3 separate regions of the Homo sapiens genome follow, and regions 1 and 3 are each linked to region 2. Evidence: fine-mapped expression QTL. A gene starts in region 2. Each other region holds a variant in brackets. All regions are shown on one strand. Distances are from middle to middle.

Region 1 (8,335 bases), 79 kb before region 2:
GTAATAAACTCAATAACTCACTAGGTAGGTGTTTGGTAAATGATCTTTTGATGTAAAAATGAAATTGTATAAACATTAAAGGAGGATCAGTGAGTGGCTTATCGGAACCATCCTCCCAGTATTCCCCGGGGTTAAATGTTATACCCTGAGAAGGCTTGACAAGAGCTCTGAATCATCTGAGCTGGTTATTGAAAATGCAGGTTCAGGGCCCCCCTTGCAGAGATTCTGGTTAAATAAATCTAGAGTGAGACCCAAGAATCTGAATTTTAAACAAGCCCTGGAGGTGATTCTGATGCATGTGGTCTGCAGATACAAATTGATGGAAAATGCCCAAAGAGAATGGGGCCCCTCTCTGCCAGGTGTTAAGAGCACCTGCTATTCTGAGCAAATGCTATTCTGAGAGCATTTGCAGGCTGGAGTCTGCCTTTATGAGCTCTGGGTGGGAAGGTAGTTCAGGCTGGTTTATACAGCCACATACAGGGAAGACAGTGAAGAATGCCCAAACATAGGGGGTGCTCTATGCTGGAGAAATGTTTAGTTTAATCCTTGAGTTGCGACAGGTTGGCAGGAACTAAAGATCTCTTAGAGAGGGATGGGCCTGAGGCATGAGAGACGCAGAGGCCAGGTCCAGAGATGCAGCGTGGAAGGGAGGGGACCATGGAGAAGGATAGAAGGACATAGCAGAGGGGATAAAGAGAAAAAAACGCATGTACACATGACACCTATTATAATTATATGTTGAGGGCTTTGCCTGTGTCAGCCCATTCACTCCTCAGCACAGCAGTCTAAGATGGCAATAACATTCGTTTTTTACATGAGGAGACAGTGGCTCCCAAAGGTTAGAATAAGAATGGAAGTCAGAGTTTTATTTCAGGACCATGTGGTTCCTAAGCTCTCACTCTTGATTTTGTGTTTCTTTAGGCAAGTAAATGATGTTTAGCCACTATACCCATCTATATACGTATTCATTATTTCATTCATTCACTCAACATGAATGAGCTCCTGCTAAGTGCCAGGCACTGAGACAGGGGCTGAGGATTGACAGGTGGACAAAAGAGACACTGCCTTAGATCTTAATAGGAAACATGAATATTAAACAGTCAGACACGTAACTATAATTTTGCAAAGAGTTGGAAGAACTGAAAAGGAAAATTGCAGGTTCTGTGAGAAATAAAGCGGGGACCCTTAATTTAGAGTGGAGGGTCAGAAAAGGCCTCTATGGAATGTTGGACTTGAAGGATGGGTAGGAATTAGCTAAGCTCAAGTGTGGGGAAAAATGTCCCAGAACTGTGCTGTCCAAAAGAACTGTTGTGCTGTCCAATATGGTAACCATCAGCCACATGTGACTAGCAAGCACTTAAAACGTGTCTAGTGTGACTGAGAAATAAATCTTAAGTTTTGTTTAATTTTAATTAATGAAAAAATACATATTTCTTAAAAACCACATGTGGCTAGTGGCATCTGTATTGGACAGCACAGCTCTAGAACAAATGGGAAGTTTAAGCAAAGGACCTGAACTGAAAAAGGGTTTGATGGCTTCCAGAAGCCTAATTTGTGGTGGGTACAGTGGGGAGACTGAGACAGCATGAGGCCTGAAGGGAACAGGGCTCAGAGTGTGCAGACACTTGAAGGAACAGGGCTCAGACTGTGCAGACACTCAAGGGAGCAGGGCTCAGAGCATGCAGGCACTTGCAGGCCTCATGAGGGGTTTTCAATTTTACTGCAGTGGGGAAGTTGTTGAAGGATTTTGAGGAGAAGAGTAACTTGGTCAATTTTTGTTTTAAGATCACTTTTCACTGTAGCAAACGGATCAGAGGGAGCTAAAGTTAGAGAAAGGAAACCAAGGAGTAAATATTGTCATTTCCTAAGAAAGAGATGTTGGTGGCTCAGCTTAAGGTGGATACTGTGGAAATGAAGAGACATGGGTGGATGTGGTATAATTTCTAGATAGAATGGATGGAACACACAGTTTTAAACATACAGAATCCAGTAGCCTAGGCCTGTGTTGTCTAATATGGTAGCCGTTAGCCCCTTGTGGCTCCTTAAATTTAAATTAATTAAAATTAAATGAAATAAGTCTTTCTGCACTGTACCATTCACATTTCAAGTGCTCAAAGGCAACACGTGACCAGTGGCTGCCATTATTGTACAGGGTAGCCTTTAGTGAACATTCCTGTCATTGTAGAAACCTCTACTGGGTAGTGCTAAAGTCACTTGGAGAAATGTTTAAAAATGGATCTAGAAGAGGTCATCAGGTCCAACACCCTCACCGTGGAGGTGACATGCTGGGGGACACTCAGCTGATTCCTGGGTGTTGCTGGAGTGGTGCCTAAACCAGGCTCTCGGGTGGCAACCTTTTCCACCCAAAGCATCAGAAGCATCATGGGCAGAATTGCCTGCTTCCCCAAGGGCTTTGTATCCTGAGAGAAAGGCCCTGCTCCAAGAGCACAGGGCAAAGCAGTTCTCACTCCTCCCCAGGCTTTTATCCAAGAGAGGGGAATGGGAGCAGAGGGGAAGGGCACATGGGTGGAGTAATGAGACCCACTTGTCAGAAGGCTAAACTAAAGCGTTACCAGCGGTGTTTGTCTAAGGAAAGGCTTCTGAAAGGCTCAGGCCTGATTTTGACTCAAACCATTTAATAATTCTATGGCAGCCTGAAAAAGAAAGGCTGAGATAGAAACAACAGAAATACAACCACCATTATTGTTTCCAGCTAACATGGCCTATCACTGGAGGCTCAGAGAACGTGTCTTTAGTTACTTCTGCAGAAAATAATGCATTGCTTTCTGAAAGCCACACACCACCCAGGCCACTCAGTCCATCCCCTCACTCAAGAAACACCACAGAAATGGATTCCAGAGAAATCCGATCAGCATACCCTTGCCACACAAGGCAGGACCCCAAGTGACCCTTGTTGTCTCCAGAAAGCATAAGGAAGAAGAAGAAAAAAAAATCCAAGGTACCAAATCCTCCTGGTGACCTAGTAATCTGGGAACAATTAAGCGAGTTCACAGGAAGTAAGTAAAGCGAGGAAAAAACTTTGTTTTCATCACCTCTGAGTTTCTAGTTAGGGACAGGGCTTGGCTCAGAT[A/G]AGTCAAAAGGAGGGGAGTGGGGAGCTGCTGGAGGAGCAGGCTTGGGGAGGAGAGGAATGCACAGTGGGAGGATACCTTGGTTTGCTAAAGCTGGGACACACTTCACTGTGGGACCATGGGTTGATCTCCACCTCCCCTACCCTGGCAGCTCAGGACTGCAGGACTCAGGGTCACAGGCCCTAGGAGATGACCAGATCCCACCTCAATGGCAGCAGTGGTGCCCTGACTGTCTTCTAGTATTTCTTGTTGCCCTGTGCCCTCTTGGAGTATGGACAGATGACGCATGACTATGCCACCTCCATGTGTCATATCCCTCGGTCAATACTTGAATTTCCATCTCTCACATTTGTATTGTCATTACTCTTGAATAGGATAACAAGGATGGGCTACCATTAGTTGAGTATTGCCTATGTGCTGGGTGCATTGCTAAGGGCTTCATGTGCATTATCTCAATTAAACTTCACAATCACCCTATGGGACTATTGTTATCTCCACTTTACCAGTGAAGAAAATGAGGCTCAGAAAAGTGAATATGATATAGCAATCATTCTCCTGGGTATTTGCCCAATTGAGTTGAAGACTTAGATCCACAAAAAAACCTGCACATGGATGTTTACAGCAGTTTTATTTGTAATTGCCAAAACTTGGAAGCAACCAAGATTTCCTTCAGTAGGCGAATGGATAAATAAACTGGTACATCCAGAGAATGGAGTATTATTCATTACTAAAAGAAAATGAGCTATCAAACCATGAAAAGGCATGGAGGAAGCTTAAATGCATGTCACTAAGTGAAACAGCCAATCTGAAAAGGCTACATATTGTGTAATTCCAACTACATGGCATTATGAAAAAGGCAAAACTATGGAGACAGTAGAAGCATCAGTGGTTATCAGGGGTCTGGGGGCAACAAAGGATGAACAGGTGAAGAACAGAGGATTTTTAGGGCAGTGGAACTACTCAGCATGATGTTGTAATGGTGGATGCATGTCATTATACATTCGTCCAGACCCTTAGAATGTACACCAAGAGTGAACACTAATGCAAAGTATGAACTTTGGGTGATAATGATGGGTCTGTGTAGGTTCATCAATTGTAACTAATGTACCGCTTCAGCATGGGATGTTGACAGTGGAGGAAGCTGGGGTTGGGGGTGATATATGGGAAATCTCTGTACTTCCAACTCAATTTTTTTGGGAACCTAATACTGCTCTAAAAATTAAAGTCTAGCCGGGCACAGTGGCTCATGCCTGTAACCCCAGCACTTTGGGAGGCTGAGGCGGGAGGATTGCTTGAGCCCAGGAGTTTGAGACTGGCCTGGGCAACATAGCAAGACCCTGTCTCTACAAAACTGAAAGATTAGCTGGGCATAGTGGCATGTGCCTGTGTTCCCAGCTACTCAGGAGGCTGAGGTAGGAGGACTACTTGAGCCCAGGAGGTCAAGGCTGCAGTGAGTCATGTTTATGCCACTGCACTCCAGCGTAGGTGATAGAAGGAGACCCTGCCTGAAAAACAAAAAGTCTATATTAAAAATAAAAGCATCAGCATCTGTTCAAGGTCCCCGCACTAGTGACCAGTGTAGCTGGAACCCAAGTGCCGGGCTCTTCAACTTCAGATACTACGTTCTCCACCTTTATGGTGTCCCATATCACTGCAGGCTTTCATACCTCACAAATACTTTTGTTTTTAATTAACCACTTTAGTTCACAGTGATCCTATGATGTCAGCATTAATTCTATTTTCCAGATAAGGAAATAGGCTCAGAGAAGTTAACTAATTCACTCACGTCATGTACTGGGTGGGTAAGTAGCTGAGTCAGAGCTTGAATCTGGGCTGAACTACTCAAATCTCTGTGCTCTTCTCAAATAACACACATCATCCAGACACTCATCTGATTAAGCAGACACACAGTGCTGTCTGAGCTGATTACTGCACCTGCAGTAATCGCCAGGGATAGCGATATGACTCTATCAATATGACCTATCCATATGACTTCTGCTAGACCTTAAGTCATTCCACCAGCTGCTGGCAGTAGTTGGAGCCTATGTAGATGTGGGCCACATCACCACCAAAGCAAGGTGCATGAAAAATGCTTTGTCAGTGGTTCACACCTAGAAAACAGGGGTGTGTGACTAGTGGAGAGAGAAGGAAAGAGGGTGGTAACTGGGTTAGTGTGCTGAAAAACCGATATCCAAGCCCAGCACCTCACTTCTCACCAGAGAAGGCTCAGCTCTTCTACCCACTGAGCCTTCGGATGTGGGGCCATGGGTAGCCAGACCTCCTGGTTATAGGGGAAAGCTTACAGCAGCAATGGTCATGGAGAAGGCCCTTTGGAAACACTGAAGAACATTTAAAACTCCCTTCTCTCGGCTGGGCATGGTGGCTCACGCCTGTAATCCCAGCACTTTGGGAGGCCGAGGCAGGCAGATCACACGGTCAAGAGATCGAGACCATCCTGGCCAACATGGTGAAACCCCATCTCTACTAAAAATACAAAAATGAACTGGGCATGGTGGCACGTGCCTGTAGTCCCAGCTACTCAGGAGGCTGAGGCAGGAGAATCGCTTGAACCTGGGAGGTGGAGGTTGCAGTGAGCTGAGATAGTGCCACTACACTCCAGCCTGGAGAGAGAGCGAGACTCCATCTCAAAAAACAAACAAACAAACACAACAACAACAACAACAACAACAAGAACAAAACTCCCTTCTGTCTCTGTCCTTTCTCTAAAGGCAGTTTGACAATGTCCTTCTTTCCCTCGTAAGTGGAGAACTTGCCTGATTTTAATCCTGGGCACATGCTGGTCTCCTCTCTCCTTCTGGCCCTCTTTCTTCCCCTTGCTTCTAGGCCACATGCCTTTCCTTATTCTCTCCTAGGAAGGGAGGAGATGGAGGGAGCTGCCCATGTTTTCCTTGAGTTTTGGCAAGAGTGTAGGGTTTTAAACCTCAGTGTTAACTAACCACTCCAGAATACTGCAGGAATAAACCAGGAAAGCCAAGAGAACCCACAGACCCTCTGAAGGAAGTGGATTGCCCCTGCAAAACCCGGGAGACAGCCCAAATACTGTGAGTGCCTAAGCTGTGGAGGTGGGAAAGGGGGATCGTCTGCCCCCAAACACATACCCTCACTGGGGAACCTGAGGGTCTAAATTATGGGAGAAGATTCTGACCTTACCTGGAGCTAAGTCAATTTAGAAAGCTGAGCAAAATACAGTGGTAGAGGAAGCAGTGGCAAAAACCCTGTGGGCTCTGAGTCTCCTGGGAAGCTATTTCAGACTTGTCTGACAGGGGTCCTTGGGGAGGGGAGGAACTAAGAAAAGACCACAGGGAGAAGGAAATCTCCAGCTGAACTTTGTAAAAATTCCAACCAAACGCAAAGTTTCCTGGCCAGAACTCAGGGGAGGGCATGAATCTGTTGTGCAGAATCCACAGGTGGGGAAGCACAAAAGCCCTACTTGCTTTTGCAGCTGGGAGGCTTGTAGCCTGGGGCAAGTTCTCAGCCCTGTTCACCTGCTGGCTGGAAACAGACTGTTGCTGTTGATGGGGCTGGGTGGGACACAGTGGGAGTGAGACCCACTTTTTGGGTCATGTGGAAGCTGGTTGAAGAGTGTGACTTCTGGATTTCTCCCACTTCCTTGACCACCTGCATGACATAGCAGAGGCAGCCATAATCCTCCTAGGAACATAACTCCAATGACCTGGGAACCACAGCCCCAACCCCCACAGCAGCTGCAGCAAGACCCACCCAAGGCTCAGACACGTCGAGCCCCACCCCCACCTGATGGTCCTTCCCTATCCACCCTGGTAGCTGAAGACAAAAGGCATATACTCTTGGGTGTTATAGGACCCCCAACCCACCGCCTGATCCTCCCTATACTACCACAGCTGATGCTCTCTTGAAAGCACCACCCCCTGGCAGGAGGCCAACCAGCACAAAAACAGTGCATTAAACAACCCAAACTACGGACCCTCTCAGAGTCCAATTCACCCCCTGCCACCTCCACTGGAGCAGGTGTTGGTACCCACAGCTGAGAGACCGAAAGACAGTTCACATCACAGGACTCAGTGCAGACAACCTGTAGTACCAGCCTGAAGCCTGGTAGACTTGCTGGGTGGATAGATCCAGAAGAGAGATAACAATCGCTACAGCTCGGCTCCCAGAAAGCCACATCCCTAGGAAAAGGGGGAGAGTACTACATCAAGGGAACACCCTGTGGGACAAAATAATCTGAACAGCAGCCTTGAGCCCTAAATCTTCCCTCTGACATAGCATACCAAATGAGAAGGAACCAGAAAAACAATTCTGGTAATATGACAAAACAAGGTTCTTTAACAGCCACCCCCCAACCCCTGCCAAAATCACACTAGCTCACCAGCAATAGATCCAAACCAAGAAAAAATCCCTGATTTACCTGAAAGAGAATTTAGAAGTTCAGTCTTAAGCTAATCAAAAATGCACCAGAGAAAGCTGAAGTCCAATTTAAGGAAATAAAAAAAAATGATACAAGAAATAAGGGGAGAAATCTTCAGTGAAATAACTAGCATAAATAAAAAACAATCACAACTTCAGGAAATAAAGGACGCACTTAGTGAAATGCAAAATGTCCTGAAAAGCCTCAGCAATGGAATCAAACAAGAAGAAAGAACTTCAGAGCTTGAAGACAATGTTTTCAAATTAACCCAATCCAACACAGACAAAGAAAAAAGAATAAGAAAAAATGAACAAACCCTCTAAGAAGTTTGGGATTATGTTAAGCAACCAAACCTAGGAATAACTGAGATTCCTGAGGAAGAAGAGAAATCTAAAAGTTTGGAAAACATATTTGGGGAAATAATTGAGAAAAATTTATTTGGCCTTGCTAGAGACCTAGACATCCAAATACAAGAAGCTCATATAACACCTGGGAAATTCATTACAACAAGATTATCACCTAGGGACATGGTCATCACGTTACCTAAAGTCAAGACAAAGGGAAAGAATCTTAGAAGCTGTGAGGCAAAAGCACCAGGTAACCTATACAGGAAAACCTGTCAGATCAACAGCAGATTTCTCACTAGAAACCCTACAAGCTAGAAGGTATTGGGGCCCTATCTTCAGCCTCGTTAAACGAAACAATTAGCAGCCAAGAATTGTGTATCCAGCAAAACTGAGCTTCATAGATGAAGGAAAGATACAATCTTTTTCAGACAAACAAATGCTGAGAGAATTCACCACTACCAAGCCAGGACTACAAGAACTGTTAAAAGGAG
Region 2 (8,335 bases):
ATTCAAGGCTGCATGCCGGGCAGAGAAATAGCAAAGGGAGAAGAATAGCAGAGGCAGGAGGAAAGGCTGCCAGGGCCAGAGGGACACAGAGCTACTGTACTCCAAAGAGGCAGCCTGTGTTGGAGAGGGCAGCCGCCAAGCCAATTTACTGTTCATTTTATTACTCTGTGTTGCCGGGCCTTAGGCCGGGGAAGTTATTTCAGGCAGAGATCACAGCACATTAACTAGTTATTAAAAGAATGTCCTTTTCTGTGTGTTCTTCCTCAGACAAGAAATAGACGCTGTGGCAAGCACATATTACTGAAAGTGGATGGACCCTCAGGGGCAAAACGCCAAGAACTGGGGGAATAAAGAGGCAAATCTTTGTTTCTGAGGAAAAGGCCCCTCACAGGTTCAGGCCTGGCATGGAGACAAGAATCAAGGCAAGAAGCAGGGATGGGAGAAGGGAGAGGAGGAGGCCTTCTGAGACCTAGGCATGGACGCACTTATCCACCCCAGAGCAGCCTTACTCGCAATGGGGAAGGGATGCAGTGTCAACTCACCCTCTCGGAAAACAACTGCAAAATATGACTCTTAGTACAAAAATTTTAAAGTTAAAAAATATTTTAAACAAAACCCTGCCCAACCTTTGGCCTAGCAATTCCACTTCTGGGAATCTCAAAAAAACAAAAACAAAAACAAACAAAAAAAACACACACACACAATATAGGAAAAAATATTATACACAGAGATATTCAGAATTATTCTACAATAACAAAAAATTAGAAATAGCCTAAAACATCCAAGAGAAGTAGATTAAGTGAAGAATCGTATATACACACAATGGAATAGTATGCAGCTGTTAAAAACAATGCTATTCATTAGTTGAATGAATAATTGTATATACAAATAGTGAAATAGTATGCAGTTGTTAAAAATAATGCTGACAAATAACGCTTATAACATAGGAAATGTTCATGCTATAAGTAAGAAAAACTGGCCAGACGCAGTGGTTCACGTCTGTAATCCCCAGCACTTTGGGAGGCTGAGGTGGGTGGATCCCCTGAGGTCAGGAGTTCAAGACCAGTCTGCCTAACATGGCAAAACCCCATCTCTACTTAAAATACAAAAATTGGCCAGGCGTGTTGGCGGGTGCCCGTAACCCCAGCTACTTGGGAGGCTGAGGCAGGAGAACTGCTTGAACACAGGAGGCGGAGGTTGCACTGAGCCGAGATTGTGCCATTGTACTCCAGCCTGGGTGACACAGTGAGACTCCATCTCAAAAACAAAAACAAAAATAAACAAGCCAGCATACAAAATTATATGTATAGCATGATCTCAACTGTGCTATAAAATAGCTACAAATACTGGAAATATATTTATATATAAATTATATGCTTTATATATAAATATATTTTATATGTAAATTAAAATAGCTTCTCCTAAGTCATGGGATTATGGGTGACTTTTTTTCTTCTTTAAATTTATTCTTTTCTATATTTTCCAATTAAAAACAACTGTTTACTGGATTTTATGAGAAAGAAGAAAAGTACATGATTTGGTTCTGGAGGGTTCCCTGTGGTATGACCCCTCCTACAGCGCTGGCTGACACTCCCTCAAGGGGAGACAGCTTTTGACGCATGAGCTAAATTCAGTTGCTGACATGAGTGGGGAGAGGGAACTACTGCACATGGAGGATAAGAAAGAAGAGCGATCTGCCTCTCCCGGTCTTACTGTCTCCCTCAGATGAGGAATCATCTGTGGCAATTTGACTCTGCCACTTTCTTAGACCCAGTTAACAGCCAGTGATGACTTAGGCAAAGCCGGGAGAGTGTCTCAGACAAAAGGCGCTCAAACCTGTCTGCTGCTTGGGGATCCTCACCTCTCCCCATCTTCCCTCCCATTCTGCAAAATGTCTACTGGGAACCTCCTATAGCCGAGACCCTGGGCAAGGCCCCAGAGATGCTAAGGCATGGATGTTGTCTTGTCAATGATTGTACACCAGGAAGGAGAAGCTACAGATAATGTATGAAAGGTTATAAATACCATATGTGTAGAGAGCCAGGGAAGGCTGAGAGGGCAAGGGCCATCTGCAAATGGCCTGAACTTCCCCTGAGGCATGAATGGGCCAAGTGGAGGCCAGGGCTCACAAAGGAAACTCTGCAGGCAACCCAGGCAGCTCTGAAGTGCCTTTGGCAGCAATGGGTGCTTAATAAAACAAGAAGCATGGCTTAGATCAGGGGTTCCCACCCTAAAGTCCAAAGAAGGCCCTTGGACCCCCAACATTATATGCAAATTTGGGATGTACGTACATTTTTCTAAAGATAGAAAGTTAAGAAGCAATGGATTAGTTTAATCTCTAAGGCCTCTTGCAGTTCTATCAATATAAAACATACAAGAGCCAACAGGCCCATCACCTCCCAAACTCCTTCAGAAATCACTTGGCCTCTTAAAGCTGCTGAGCCCTAGGCTGTGCACTCCACAAGGACAAACTCAATGTGGTGTTGTGTTTAGACATGACCTATTAGCATGGTGCTACTTCCAGAAGGCTGGCGTTACAAGGTGGATGTTAGAGAAAATTAGTACCTAGAAAATTAGTAACTAGACTGTTAACTTTTCTGCACTCCTCACCAAACAAAGCACAGCATTTCACATGCTGTGGATGCTCAAACAGCCAAGGAATAGGAATAAGGGTACCCCTGCTTTCCAAACCCTCTGCAGGAGATGAGCACACTTGACTTTGGGGGGCCACCAAACTCCATTCTCAAGCTGTGGGAGCCTGAGTCTTAAGACAGAGGGCCACAGCATTCTCAACAATTTGGAATGGCTATAAAAGGGGCCAAGAAAATGGCTGGCCTTGAAGTTGGGAAGATTGAGGACTGGAGTGAAGCCTGTTCTCTAAAGATAAGAAGGGCCTCTGGTGGACTTCTCTGAATGCAGGGTGAACAAATTGACTTCTTGAGCCTCCCTCCAGCCCAAGGATTCTGTAATTGAAGGGAATGGATGACTCATTCTCAGAGTTACAGGCGTTTAGCCAAGCATCTCCTCACATGCATCTAGGACTTAACATCCCAGGTCTGCTGCCCACTCTTTAGATGGCTCTGCACAATTCATTTAACTTCTCTGCGCCTCGGTTATCTCACCTGCAAACTCAGCAACTGGATGAGACAATGCCAATATCCCTTCCATCTCTAAGCGTCTTTAATATTATTATTAAGCCATTAAGATCAAATAAGAGAAAGGGGAAAAAAAAAGCATTCTGCTTCTGGACTCAGCTTCTGTTGAGTCTCCAAGATATATACACAGGAGCTCTGCTTTAGAGAAGGAAATGATAAAAGGAGGACAAGTAGCATCCCCAGGCCACCTCCGTTCCCAGGCCCGCACCCATCAGAACTCAGCTGCAACTGTGAGGCCCCCATGTGAGTGCCAAGCCCCTTGAAAAACAAGGGAAGAGGTTTTGCCCGTGAATGATGTGTTGCTAAAAAGTGAAGACGTAAGACATCCCCACCAACATAAGGCGCTCCAGAGACCAGGAGCTCTTCCATTGTGCCTCCTGGGCCTCGGTTTCATCATCCATAAGATGGGGAGACTGGGAATGGCTTTACACTTGAATACTTCAGGTTGACCACCACAGCCAAGGGCCAAGTAGAGTGGACAGGTATTGGGTAGGATGGGAAGGGGGACCAGCAAAAATTGTGGGGTAAGATTTTGACGCCTGCACAAACACAGATCTCTTCAGAGCCCTCAACTGAAGGCTTCCCATTGGTCCCCTGTCTGGGATGGAGCACCAGGAGTGACCGGAGGGACTAGGCGCTGGGCTCCGGGGTGGGCTGCCAGGACCCTGGGCCGGCTCACCTGATGAAGGTGGTCTTCCCAGTGGAGTACTGGCCCACCAGCAGAACCATGGGCTTGTTGTCGAAGTCGGCATCCTCCAGGGCGGGCGAGTGGAACTCGTGGAAGCGGTAATGCTCTTCCAAGGGCAGCAGCTTGCTCTTGTAGAGTTTCTTGAGCCCCTCACTCACCGTCTGGAAAACCTCGGGGTCCTTCCTCCGGCGGTCGTCCGTACCCAGCCAGCTGAACATCGCGGCCGCCGCTCGCCCCCGGCACGCAGCCCCAGGGGAAGACTCCTCCTCAGGGGAAGATGTCCCGTAGGACCGGTCCGCCGGGCTCCGAGCCGCGCCGCCGCCTCACCCAAGCGCGGGGCTCAGCCGCACCATGGCCCGGGCACGCGGCTAGGAGGGCCGGGAGCGCACTCTCCCTGCTCCTGGGACCAAGCCCAGCCGCTGCTGCATCCAGCAGCCCAGGCCGGAGGGAGGATAAATAATCTGGGCTTGAGGAGGAGGGGTGAAATCTTGGCAATTAAAGTTGAACCTGCAAGGAAACTGCCAGATGCCGGGGTCCCAAGCCGGGGTCCCCGATCGGCCCCCAGCCCTCGCCTGCTCTGCCCTGCGTGCAGCAAGGGATGCTTCGGCTCCGCTCCTGCCGGACCGAGGCGGCTCAGGGGAGACGGCGACGCTGCCCAGCCCGCGGACAGCTCTGCATCCGCAGCAGCATCCTGCAGCCCCAGGCGGTGGTTTAAATGCCAGCTGGGCAGGAAGCCGGCGCGCAGAGGAAGTCCCCTAGTACTGGCAAGGCAGGGCCGGCCCCACGGTTGCGGCGACGGGAAGCCGCGCAGGGCGCCGCCATGTTTGTGGGCAGGCGCTCAGCTCTAGACCTGCGGCCGCGCGGGGAGAGGGATGCTGACCCAGTCCAGTGGGAGAGTGCCGGTGTCTCAGTCTCCGCCTCTGGGGCTTCGATTTGGGAACAGCGCCCTCTCAGGGACGGCTGCGAGGACAGAGTTGACCTATTCATCACACTCCCTGCTTTGAATCGCCTCTCCTTCAGTTGCTGAGGTCAATTCCCTAGGAAAACAGGTACTCTAGTATTGGGGGATTTTTTTTTTTTTTGGCATAGAAAGGGGATCCACTATCAGGTTACACAAAATAACCAAAACTGTCACTACCCAAACTTTTAGCTAGGCTTAGGGTGAAGTCAAAATCGTTCCCATTTACTTATTCATTCATTCCAGCAAAACAAAACAAGCCAAGAAGCAAAATCCCTGCAAGTATTGGGAATTTATTATGGGGCAGTTACAATTTTGGTGACTGTGGATACAGAGATGAGTGCTGAACAGACTCTCCCTTCCAGGAACTCCAGTGAAGGCAGGCTTTAAAGAGGAGGCATGAGCAGAGGGTCATGGGAATACAGGGAGGAGTCACTCCTTTTGTGTGGCTAATTTGAGGAAGGCTTCATGGAAAGCATGACTGTAAGCTGGATCCTAAATGATGAATTGACATCCATTGTTCTAGGAGCGTAAGGAGTATTTGCAAAGGCTTGAGGAACTTGGTGTGTCCAAGGCAGAGTAAACAGTTTGGCATAGCTGGAGTGTAGGGTTTAGGAAGGTGAAAGAGAGTGAGGGAGGCCAAGCATGAAAGGCTTTGCCAGAGATGGGGAACCAATAGCAATGCTATTACTAATCATTGTTACATTAACAAAATGCTCAGCATGTGCAGGGGCCTGGGCTAAGTTCTCAGTGAACATTGCTTTATTTAACCTTCATGGCAGATCATATTATCTCCAGCATCATACTAAGGAGAGTGAGTGGGAACACTGTCCAGGTGTAGGCAAAAGCAGTGCATCGTGTGTAGAGAATTTAAACCCAATAATAAACTTGCTGAAAGTTGATGTGCTTTGTATTGGCACCATTCTAAACAGTGTAGTGATAAAACACTCCTCCCTGCCCAGGCTAATGACTCCCACTACCCTCCCTTCCACAGATGAAGAAGGAGTAGGCTATGGACCAGGCAGGAACTGGAATGCCAAGAGCAGTGTTGGAGGGGCAAAAGAGGTTGGGGGTTGATATGGTTTTGCTTTGTGTCCCCGCATAAATCTCATCTCTAATTGTAATCCCCATAATCCCCATGCGTTTAGGGAGAGAGCTGGTGGGAGGAGATTGGATCATAGGGACAGTTTCATTCATGCTGTTCTCATGATAGTGAGTGAGTTCTCGTGAGAGCTGATGGTTTTATAAGGGGCTCTTCCCACTTGGTTCCTCATACTTCTCTCTCCTGCCGCCTTATGAAGGACGTGTTTGCTTCCCTTTATGCCATGACTGTAAGTTTCCTGAGGCCTCTCTAGGCATGCAGAACTGTGAGTTAATTAAACCTTTTTCCTTTATAAATTACCCAGTCTTAGGTATTTCTTCACAGCAGTGTGAAAACAGACGAATACAGAGGCCAAGAGACCATTTAGGAAACTATTCCAAAACTTAGGAGACAGCTGCAATGGGATTGGAGAAGAGGTCAGACTCAAAAGATTTTTTTCATGGAATAGAATTGTCAGATCTTGGTATGTGATAAAAAAAAGAGGACATAAGGGTGAGGCACAGTCTAGGATGATTTTGAATTTTCTACCATAGGGGATAAGATCATTGGAGAAGCTCTTCCACTAATTAGGGGAGGCAGAGAGAGAGCTGATTTAGCAGACAGAGATAATGTGTTCAATCTAAAACGTGTTGCGTTTGAAGTGCCTGCAGGAGCTTCAAGAGGAGTGTGGTGAAGCTGCAGGGATTTCAGGGGAGGGGGGATTATCAGAGGCCAGTGCTGAATAGAATCTCCTTAGTTACATCTCAGATCTCCCGACTCCCTCCTTGAACCCCAAAACTGATCATCTCTTGTTGAGAATTCACTCAGATTAATATTTCACCCTTGGTGTTTAGCTACTACCAACATACGAACCTAAGGAGTAATATTAAAGATATTTAACAACTCACAAGGCATGAGAATCAAACACCCGGAACAGACACTGGCCTTCCTAGTGGAGCAAGGCTTGCGGCCCCGTGCCACGCCTGGTGTTAATACAGTGGCGTCTGGACCTTGGAGAGATCTGAGCCTGTCCCCGGAGAGAGGTCAGTATGGCCAGCGTGACAGGAAAGAAATCAAGGGGCCCCATTATGGAAGTATTTCAAGAATTTTGTAATCAGTACGGCCATGCCATTGTCTACTGCTGAATGTCTGTTCCGAATATCTAATTTACCAAGTGCGTGTTGACACATCTACTCCCGTCTCAGTCTTGAGTAGTTGAAATCTATCTGTTTAAAAAAGGAACTAATGGAGCATTTCTATAGACTAGCAATAAAAGGTCATGAAAGATAATATTCAAAAAAGATACTGTGTTCAAAAGAACAAAAACTTACGGATAAATCTGACAAAAGATATGCAAGATCTTTATGTGAAAAATAATAAAACTTTATAGAAAGATGTTAAAGAAGTTCTAAGTAAATGGGAGAGACATGCCATGTTCCATTGTGGAAGGATTCCTTGTCACAAACATGTGAATTCTTTACAACATGATTGATAAATTCAATAATTGAGAGATATGATTGAAATCAAAATCTAAATAAGGTTTTCCATGGAAATTGACAAGGTGATTCTAAAATGTATAACTTATAGAGCAATAGTAAAAAAAAGCTTAGATATTCCAGGAGAAGAAAGAAGATAAGAAGAATAAGGAGGAGGAGAGGGAGAGGTGGAAGGGGAAGGAGGGCAGAAAAAGGAGAACAGAGAAGAGAAGAGGACAACAGTAACATAGCAATGGCAACAACTAAGCGAAGAGGACTTGCCCTAGTGGACATTGTTATGGAGTTACAGTGGTTAATATGGTTTTGGCACAGAGACCAACAGAATAACAACACAGTAAATAGCCAGGAAATTTGGAAGCCTGACATATACAGAAGTTGCAATAGAGATTGCATATATATCACCACAAAGTCAGGAAGAGTTCTTTAAACAAGACGTCAGAAGCACAAACTGAAAAATGAAAAAAACTAAGTTTAGCACTAGCAAAATTTAAAACTTTCGTTCAACTAAAAATACAAAAGTGAGTGAAAAGATATTTCCTATACACAAAAACCCATGAAAGCACATCCAGAATATAGAACTAATGGCTGTGCATCGATAACAAAGACAAACATTCCAATAGAAAAAAACTTGGCAAGAGCTACAAAAATGTCTTTTACAAGAGGCTACATGAATGCCCTATAAACGCAAGAAAACATGTTGCATCTCATTAGTAATTAGAGAAATGCCAAACCACACTAACACTCCATACCCACCAAAATGGCAAGAATAAAAAGTTGGATGGTAGGGTTGGTGAGGATGTAGAGCAATGGGAGCTCTCATAAAATGCTGATGGGCGTGCAGGCTGGCACAAATACTTTGGGAAACAGTTTGGCATTGCTTAGTGAAGCTGAAGATGTGCATGTCCTATGACCTATCTCCTTCCATTCTATTTCAAGGCGTGATCTAGAGAAACTCTT
Region 3 (8,335 bases), 21 kb before region 2:
GCCTAGTAACTCTTATTAACGTCATTATTTCCATACCAGCTCCCCTATCCGTGCTTACTGTATTTAGCAGCCCGCTGGAAAAGAAAGTCTGGACACCTAATCTGACACAAAGACCCAGAAATTCTTTCTAAGGTCTGAAAACAATGAAACACTAAAAAGTAGATACTGATGATGGTTCAGACCATGCCTGTCACTGGTCTGGAAGAAATCTGCAATTCTTGTTATAAAAACATCTTGTTCTCACTCAGGCTCTTTCCTTTGTAATCAGCTGCAGCACAAAATTCCCAACTCTTGAAACCACAAGGGGTTTCTTCCTTAGGATGTGACTGGAACTCTGGCCACCCGCATCTTGGTTATCTAGCACTAAGCTGCTTTAGGTCAGACTGGTTACAGGAGCCCCAGAGAAGTTGTTCTGCTCAATCCCAAGTAGCTGTGGATCCAGTAGGAGCTGAAGTAGGAGGGTGGACCAATAGTCTATACATTCACTGACACCCAGAGCCCCAGTAGGTCTTACCTCTGTGTCTCAGGCTCCTCTTACATAAAATAGGAAGACAAGAGATAAGGAAGTGGGGCTCAGAGAAGTCAAGTGATTTGTCGAAGGGCACACAGCCCATGAGCAGCAGCAGTCGCATGAAGATGGAGGTGTTAGGCTTTCCCATTCTGAGTCTGAGCAGGGTTCTCAGCCTCTCCTCCTGCCACTCCCCCGTGGCATACCTCTGGCACCAAGGTAGGAGCCCTTTCTTGGGTACTAAAGTGACCAACCATCCTGGCTCCCCATAGCACAAGGGTTCCAAGGTGACACACACTGGGGACCCAAAGCTCATTGCCACCATCGAATGGGAAACCAAATCATTAGGAAAAAGCCTGCCCTGCCTCACAGAGGGAGGCTAGAGACCAGGCAAGATCATCAGGCAACTGCCTTGTGAGTGAGTCAGACTTAAGAAGCTCTGACTGTCTTTAACAGGGGTCCTGACTTAGCCTCCATCAGAATCCCCCCAGGGCTTCTTAAAACCCAGATGGTTGGACTCTATCCCCAAAGTTTCTGATTCAGTAGGTCTGGCGCAGAGCATTTCTAACAAGCTCCCAGGAGATTCTGATGCTGTTGGTCCAAGGGCCACACTTTGAATACCACTGGCCCATAAAAATAACAATAGCATTCAAAAGGTGTTCAGCACTGACCTAAGTACTTTATAATCATTCATTCCTTTAATCCTCACGATGACTCTGTGTAGGGTCATTAGACACTAATATCAGCCCCACTTCTCTGAGGAGTAACCAGAGATACAAACAGATAAAGGAACTTGTCTAAGGTCACCCAGCTGGTAAGCAATGGGCTGGGACTCAAGTCCAGGAAGGTAGCCCTGGAGTCAGTGCTATGAACCACTGCACCGAGTTGGCTTTCACTTTCAAAGGCTGTCATTTCAGACTAAGTAGCAGGCATCGATGGGGTGGGGGATGAGGATGAATGGAGCCAACGGAGCTAGGTTTAAAAAGCCTTTCCCCCACCCTGTGGCATCTAGTGAACACCCAGTGGGGTACATATTTAGGACGTGTGGAGGCACTGCCACAGGGGGTAGGGGGATGGGATCAGACGGTCGGGAAAACTTGCTGCCCTAAAGCTTCCTGGAGGACCCCTGTAATGTTTCCCTGGTGGCTGTAAGAGAATTCTAACAAACAAAGGAAGGTCAAACCCTCCTTTGGTTACCCGGATGCCAGTACTACTCCATTTTCAGCTCCTCTGTCTTTGGTAAATGAAGTGCTTCCAAGCATTCCCATTGCCATGTGATTTTCTCCAAGATCTGTCAGCTGCTCAATGAATATACAGCTCAACTAACACCTGAGCCTTCTCCCCCTGCTCCTGTGGCGTAGACCTATGAGGCTACGAGGAGCTTAGCCATCAATGGTCCAACTTCCTGATTTACAGATAGGGAAACTGAGGCTCAGGAAGGGGCAGAGCTGGCCCAGTATCTCCAGGTGCCATCCTGAGGATAGTTCCTGATGGGTGCGTCATCGAGGGCCTGGTGTGAACTAGATTTTGCCTTCTCTTTTGAACACAGGTGTCCTGTCTCGGCTCAGAGACAAGGCCCAGGAAAGTGCTTCAGAGGCTGCTCTGCCCAGTGGGCAGGGGCATCATCAACCCTCCCTCGGAGATGTTCACGCAAACTCTAGGAGTTAAGTGACTCAGCCAATACCACCCATGAGACACGACCCCTAGCCTCCAACTCGAAGTTCAGTGCTTGCTGCAGACGGTAAGATGTTCATGTCATTATCTCATGTCACCCTCACGACACGCTCTGAGGCAGGCAGCGCGAGGAGTATCGTTCTCACTTCCAGGGGAGGAAACTGAGGTTCAGAGAGGAGAGAGTCAAACAGTTGGCAAGTCGTGAGGCCAGATGACCCAGCTGTCAGCCATCCAGCCGTTCTGCACCTGGCCGCTCCCTGCCTCCCTCCCTCCCTCCCTGGCACGCAGGCACAGCCAGCTCCTCACTGGAGCCCGGGAAGCCTAAGCATTCCCACTTCAGGTGAAGCCTGCAGCCCGCACTACTCCCCTCCTTCCTACATCCCTCTGTCCATCCTTCCCTTCCCAGGGATGGCTCCAGCCTATTTTTATCTTCCCTTCAGCACAGCGCATGGCAAGGCTGCTGTCACCTCCCAAAGGCAGTCCCTCAGAGCTGTGGGTAGGGAGGGGCCAGAGGGCTAAGAAAATCCCCAACCCCCACCTCTGCAAACAGCTCACAGCAGGAGGGCAGTAGGGACCCTCCACAACTCCCTGCCAGGCCTCTGGCCTTCTGCTGCTCCTTATTCCCCAATCTGGATTTTAGCTGTGCCAGTGCAGGCCACAGGAGGGGCTGCTGGGAGGACCAAGACTGGGCTGCAGCTCCCTCTCACCTGTCCAGCAAATCTCAGCCCCAATATATTGGCTCAATGGCTCAGAACAGGCTAAGGCAGCCAGGGCAGCCAGTGTTGAGTCCTATGCTGACAAGGTAATGGAGGTTTATAGAGGGTGAGAGAAAGGCCCAAGGCCATGCAATGCTGGGGGTCAGAGCCAAGACCTGAACTCCAAACTCAACTCTTGCACTGTAGCCACGCCTCCACCAGGCTGGGGAAAACAAAGACACCAGAGAAGCTGCAGAGAAGGGAAGAGGCTCTGTCCCTGCAACTTGCTGCAATCCCTGATGACACCAGCGATGTAAGAGAAGGCTGTGTCTGCAAAGGCTGAGGGGCAGCAATATGTCCATGCTGCCAGAACAGGATAGACCCCTGCCTATCCCTGTCCCTGCCCTCAGTGGTCTTGTAGCATCATGCACGCTCCTGTTCTGCTCTTCAGCTCACTGAAATCATCCTCGGTGCACTGGGAGCTGGACAGGGCAGGGGCAGCACCTCACCCTTCTGGGCTTCCCCTGCACCCAGCACGGTGTGTGGCACACAGCAGGTGCACTATCAGTATTTGCTGAACGGAAGTGAAACGTGGAAAACGTGGAAACCTGTTCCACGTTTGGCATCTGGGAGACAGTAAATGAGTAATCTCTGGGCCTCAGTTTTATGGTTGAGGAATCAGTGACTCAGTCGTAGGGTTATTGTGAGGATCTAAACAAATCAGAGGATGCAGGTGAAACTGCTGAGCTGTGACCTTGGCTGTTCTCATTGCCCTGCTGTTTTTTGTAAAGCACTCCTTTTAAGCCCTAGTTTCTATGAGATGGGATGTGCTCTGTAGGAGTCACCAGAGGAGCACTGGCCTGGGTGAGTCCACCTCTCGTTTCCGCTTAGCCACTAACTTACTGTGTGTCCTTGGGCAAGAATCTCCCCTCTCTAGTCCTCTGTCTCTTTGCCTGTCAAATCAGGGGATTGAGCTGGACAACCTCCGAGCTTCCTTTCTCGGTTCACAATTCTCTGCATCTGAGACCAGAGGTGTGAGGGTGGGGAGTACAACAGGATGGATGGAGATTAGCTACAAGGGACCCTTTGCAGGCACAGCAAGAGAGAGAGGCTGCAGGCTGCTGTCTTACAGGCCTCGGGGATGCCTGTGTGAAGTCTGCCTCTGCCTGAGGACAGGCCAAGGGCTTCTGGGAACTCTTTCCGTGATTTTATAAGCAGAGGCCTCCTATTTGCTCTGGAAAGCTGCTATCCAATTACAGACTCAGTAATGCCAGAAGCTTCCAGCCAGGTGTGGCTGTGAAGACCATGACCATCAAGCAATGACTCCATGGGTTGCTCTGAAGCTCGACTTCCCTGCTCCTGGCTAACCCCGAGGCTGTGTCATCTGTAGGGTGGATATTTAGTTGTTCACTTGGCCTGGACTTAGGTGCAGATCTAGGAATGGCGGTATCTCAAAGGTATGGACTGGACCCAGTAAGAAAAAGGGTATGGTATAGGATTAGCTTTCTCATTTATTTGGCAAATCTGAACCTCAATTTTCTCAGCTGCAAAATAGGGATAACAAATGACTGAATGAGGGGTCTGTGGTAGAGCTGAATGAGGACTCTGTGGTAGAGCTGTGGCAACAAGATCTGACAGCACAGACTGCCTCAGCAGCTGCGGTGAGTGCTATGGCCAGTGACAGGCCCCCTTCCCCTCTCTGGTCCCAGCGATGGCTCTGAGACCCACAACGGTAGCTCTTGGGCACCTGCGGCAGCCCAAGTGTTCATGAAATATGGACTAGTGAGTCGGGGGAGATTCAAGCCCCAAGAGACAGAGCAGAGAAGCTGCCCTTCCTGGACTTCATAGCACAAGTCTGCTGGCTCTAAGAGGTCTAGTCAGCCAGCTCCGGGCCTGGAGACTGGGCAGCCTGCAGGGATCTATGGTCCCCTCCAACCGGAGGCTCCAGATGACTGGAAAGAAAGCACTTTGAAGTAATGCCAGGCAAGAGGAAATCAATCAGACAAACACAGTAAGGAAAGCCACCCCTTCCTCACCCGCCGGCTTCCATCATGG[C/T]CTGGCATGCAGTGCCTGGGCCCTCACAGGGCAGCATACTTCTTCGGGTTTCCAGCCACGTGACCTCATTCGCTCTTCATAATTCTCTGTATCCCAGGAGGTAAGTAGGGCATACACATCTTACAGGACAGGGAATCTGGACACAAAGAGATTAAGGGGCTTGCCCAAGCTCACACAGCCAGGTGGTGGCAAACTCAGGCCTGGAACCCAGCTCCTTGACTTGCAGCCCACATTCTCTTTCTATAACAGCTCACAGCCATGTGAGCCTGAAGCTCAGAGGCTGAGCCCTCAAACCAGGCACTTACTTGCGGTGGGTACATACAAAACCCCATCCCTCCCCAAAAAAATCTCCGTCAAGATTTAAAGGCATTTGAGCAAAAGAGGAATAACAAGGCATCAATTTCCAAAATGTGGGAAGAGTTTGGCTGACAACGGGGAAGAAATGCCACATTAGATGCTTCCCAGAAGTAACGGCAAAGAGCGGCCCGAGCAGATGGTTGGCAAGGCCTTTTGAAGGGCGTCAGGACTCGGCTGCTCTGCCCAGGCACAGGAGCGCCCACACAGGCGTGCCTGTACCGGCACGTAGTCTGGGAAGACCCAGAGGCCTTTAAGTGCAGGCTCTGCTCCAATGAGGGTGCCCTGGATGGGCTAGGAATGTGAGGCTGCAAGGATCAGCCCAGACCTGCCAAGGTCTGAGCCCTAAAGACCCCTAGAGGAAACCTGGAGATGAGAGGTTTGCCCTCATTCCTACCCCCTGTGCTCTTCCGGGGCAGGTGATGATAATGTGCTGAGAAGCCGTGGACCAGGAATAGGAAGACCCGAGTTCCCTAGATGTGTGATCCGGGCAAATTTTCAACCTGCTCTGGCCTTACTGAGCTCACCTGTGCAGAAAGGGGCCTGTGGGGAGGAGCTTCAAGCTGTGCAGTCTGTGATGTGAGCACAAAGCCCCGCCCTGCTTTCCTAAGGTGGCGCCTATGGGGATTTCTAGCTGGGAAGCAGCCAGGAAATGTGGTTCCTAAGCTCAGGACACTCAGCCTTCTGGAGCCCTCCCACTCCTGCTGCATCCTCACTTCTTCCCAGTAATGAGCCAGGCTGGGGCACATCCTGCCACTTCCAGGAACCACCTCCCTGTCTTCCTCCCCTGCCCACCCCAATGCATCTGCATCCAGAGACAAGTGCTGGCCCAGGACCTCCCAGAATCAGCTTCCCGGGCACCCCAGCCTTCTTCCCACAAGACACACCCCGCCCCAGGCCCAGTAGAGGGTCCACACCCTGAGCAAGGACGACCCTTTGCCGCCCTAGTCCAGCCTGGGGCCCGAGTGCTCCTTCCTGTGAAGCCTGAGGTCTTGGAGCCCTGGGAAGCAGCTCACTTTGCAGAACAGGCAGTCTAATATGGCCAGTAGGGGCCTCTGTGCCGACTTGATAACCATGCCCCTTTTTATCTGGTGAGACACAGCCCTGCGCCAGGTATGAGGCTCAGTGAGCAGAAGGTGGGCTGAGTTTCAGGTTCTAGATGCCCTCGTGTAGGACATAGTTGGCAGGACTATCCCAGGGAGGAAGGGTGTCCGGTCCTTGCCTGGGCTGGCTGGAGTAAGGCGAGAAGCACCCAGTCTGCTCTGTGGCCAAACCCAGAGCTCTTGGAGCCCTAGGCAAGAAGCCATGAGAAAGCAAGTTTTGTTCTATGCACACATTTGTGTGTGTGTGTGTGTGTGTGTGTGTGTGTGTGGGAGGGGGTTGCTGTGGGGAAGAGGGGAGTTGTGTATATGCAGGATATGTGTGAGGAGTGTGTATGCATGTGTGGGTGTGGGAGTGGGTGTGTGCGTAAAAGGAGGTATGGGTGGGGGAGGGTGGGGGAGGTGTGCGTCAGTTTAAACTGGAGCTATGTGTTCTAAGGCCAATTGTGAGAAAGAAAGGGGTTGGGCTCTGCACCCTGGAAACTTTACTCGTTTGGGGTACCACAGATAACTGAGGGTGTCTGACGCCCTTCCCCCAACTGTCCTGGTCTCCTCAGGGTGCTGAGGTCAGCACCGCCCCAGGCGCCAGCAGCCCAGTTCTAGCTCTTGTTTTTAACGCAGGCTGCTTTTGCCAGCAGCTGCATTTACAGTCTGGACTCAGGAAAGCAGAAAACAAACTGGCCTGCAAAGCCACTCCTGGGGCCATCATTTCTCCCAGAGGTAGGGGGACCTGGTGCTTAGTCAATGTGGGATGGGAGGCATTAGGAAGTGCAGGCAAGAACACCAAGGGCCTAATTTGCTTAAGGCAGTCACTGGGGTCCAAAGACAAAGGCAGGAGAGAGGTAGTGAAACCCCGTCTCTACTAAAAATACAAAAATTAGCTGGGTGTGGTGGCGCATGCCTGTCGTCCCAGCTACTCAGGAGGCTGAGGCAGGAGAATCGCTTGAACTCAGGAGGCAGAGGTTGCAGTGAGCCGAGATTACGCCATTGCAGTCCAGCTTGGTGACAGAGCGAGACTCCGTCTCAAAACAACAACAACAGCAACAACAACAACAACAACAAAAACAGAAATAGGAAAAGAATAGAATAGGATAGGAACTGAGGAAGGCAGGAGTCCCTGGGAACCAGCCTGCCACATACAGGTGCACAGGCTGTGCACTGCACAACTACAAGGGAAACTATTCACACAGATTACTCTGGGATTGTATGATAGGTGGTGCCAACTGACAGGGAGGGAGGGAGGAAGGTAGCTCATGGTGATCCAGACCCAGGGCTATGGCCCGTGTTTTCATATGGTCTATAGACCTCACAAGACGGCTGTGTGGTACATATCATTACCCCTTGTTACACATGGGGACACTGAAAATGTGACCTGTTGAGACACACACAGGTTCTAAAGCCCAGAACTCTGAATTCCTAGTACAGTGTCCTTGGAAACCGCAGAGGCTGGAGTCCTCTCTGGACCCGCTGGTCAGGCTACACTGGCCTTGCAGGTGCACATGTGACGTCCCCCAGGGAGTTCACACTGGGAAGGGGTGGCTTTCCCCAGCCTTCCTGGAGGAGTCCTGAGCTGCCTGAGTGAAACAGCAAATCCCCTTCAGGCTTAAACGCAGGGTAAACCCCAGATGAACCACTTGGGGTTGGGAATAGGTGGGTTAGGAGAAAGGGGGTGCTCCGGCAAACAAACCAAAGCAAGACAGAAAAACCACCCGTGCTGTCCCTCCACAGGGCCCTTAACAGGGAGCCAGGTGCTTACAGCGTGCGTGCTGGCTGGAAGGAGGGAGGCTCAGACATCCCTATTTTCCCAGGCCAGGGGTTCCAGCTCCCTATCACCTCCACCATACAGCCCAGAGATAGGGAGCCAGGAGATCAAGTCTTCCAAGACCCCCTTCCCAGGTGACACTGTGATGTCCCAGAATTCACAGGCCACCAATTACAGGAACTGCTAA

Direction of the effects. Positions count from the first base shown, and alleles are read on the strand shown. Sizes are in standard deviations (SD) of each study's normalised expression. Not every link is listed here.
With allele G in place of A in region 1, the expression in esophagus mucosa of the gene that starts at base 4,531 in region 2 is higher (small effect, 0.37 SD a copy in GTEx).

What was found. PIP is the estimated chance that this variant, and not a neighbour inherited with it, causes the effect.
Region 1: its variant is fine-mapped to the expression of EHD3 in esophagus mucosa (GTEx, PIP above 0.99).
Region 3: its variant is fine-mapped to the expression of EHD3 in whole blood (TOPMed, PIP above 0.99). The same link has a PIP of 0.9 or more in blood mononuclear cells.

Annotation. Positions count from the first base shown.
Region 1 is chr2:31,309,709-31,318,043 of GRCh38, reverse strand. No RefSeq gene overlaps it. Among named protein-coding and RNA genes, the nearest start is that of EHD3, 80 kb to the right of the region's middle. The variant A/G (reference allele first, on the strand shown) is at 3,092.
Region 2 is chr2:31,230,348-31,238,682 of GRCh38, reverse strand. EHD3 (EH domain containing 3) reads right to left here and starts at 4,531. Exons shown (of 6, transcript NM_014600.3): 1 at 3,835-4,531. The coding sequence starts at 4,061. It also overlaps a transcript of CAPN14 not described here.
Region 3 is chr2:31,251,570-31,259,904 of GRCh38, reverse strand. The region is part of intron 3 of EHD3 (EH domain containing 3); the gene reads right to left. LOC124905983 (a long non-coding RNA gene) reads left to right here. Exons shown (of 4, transcript XR_007086270.1): 2 at 2,058-2,249. Among named protein-coding and RNA genes, the nearest start is that of EHD3, 22 kb to the right of the region's middle. RefSeq lists enhancers at 2,736-2,785, 2,871-3,698, 6,650-6,729, 7,010-7,059, 7,100-7,179. The variant C/T (reference allele first, on the strand shown) is at 4,933.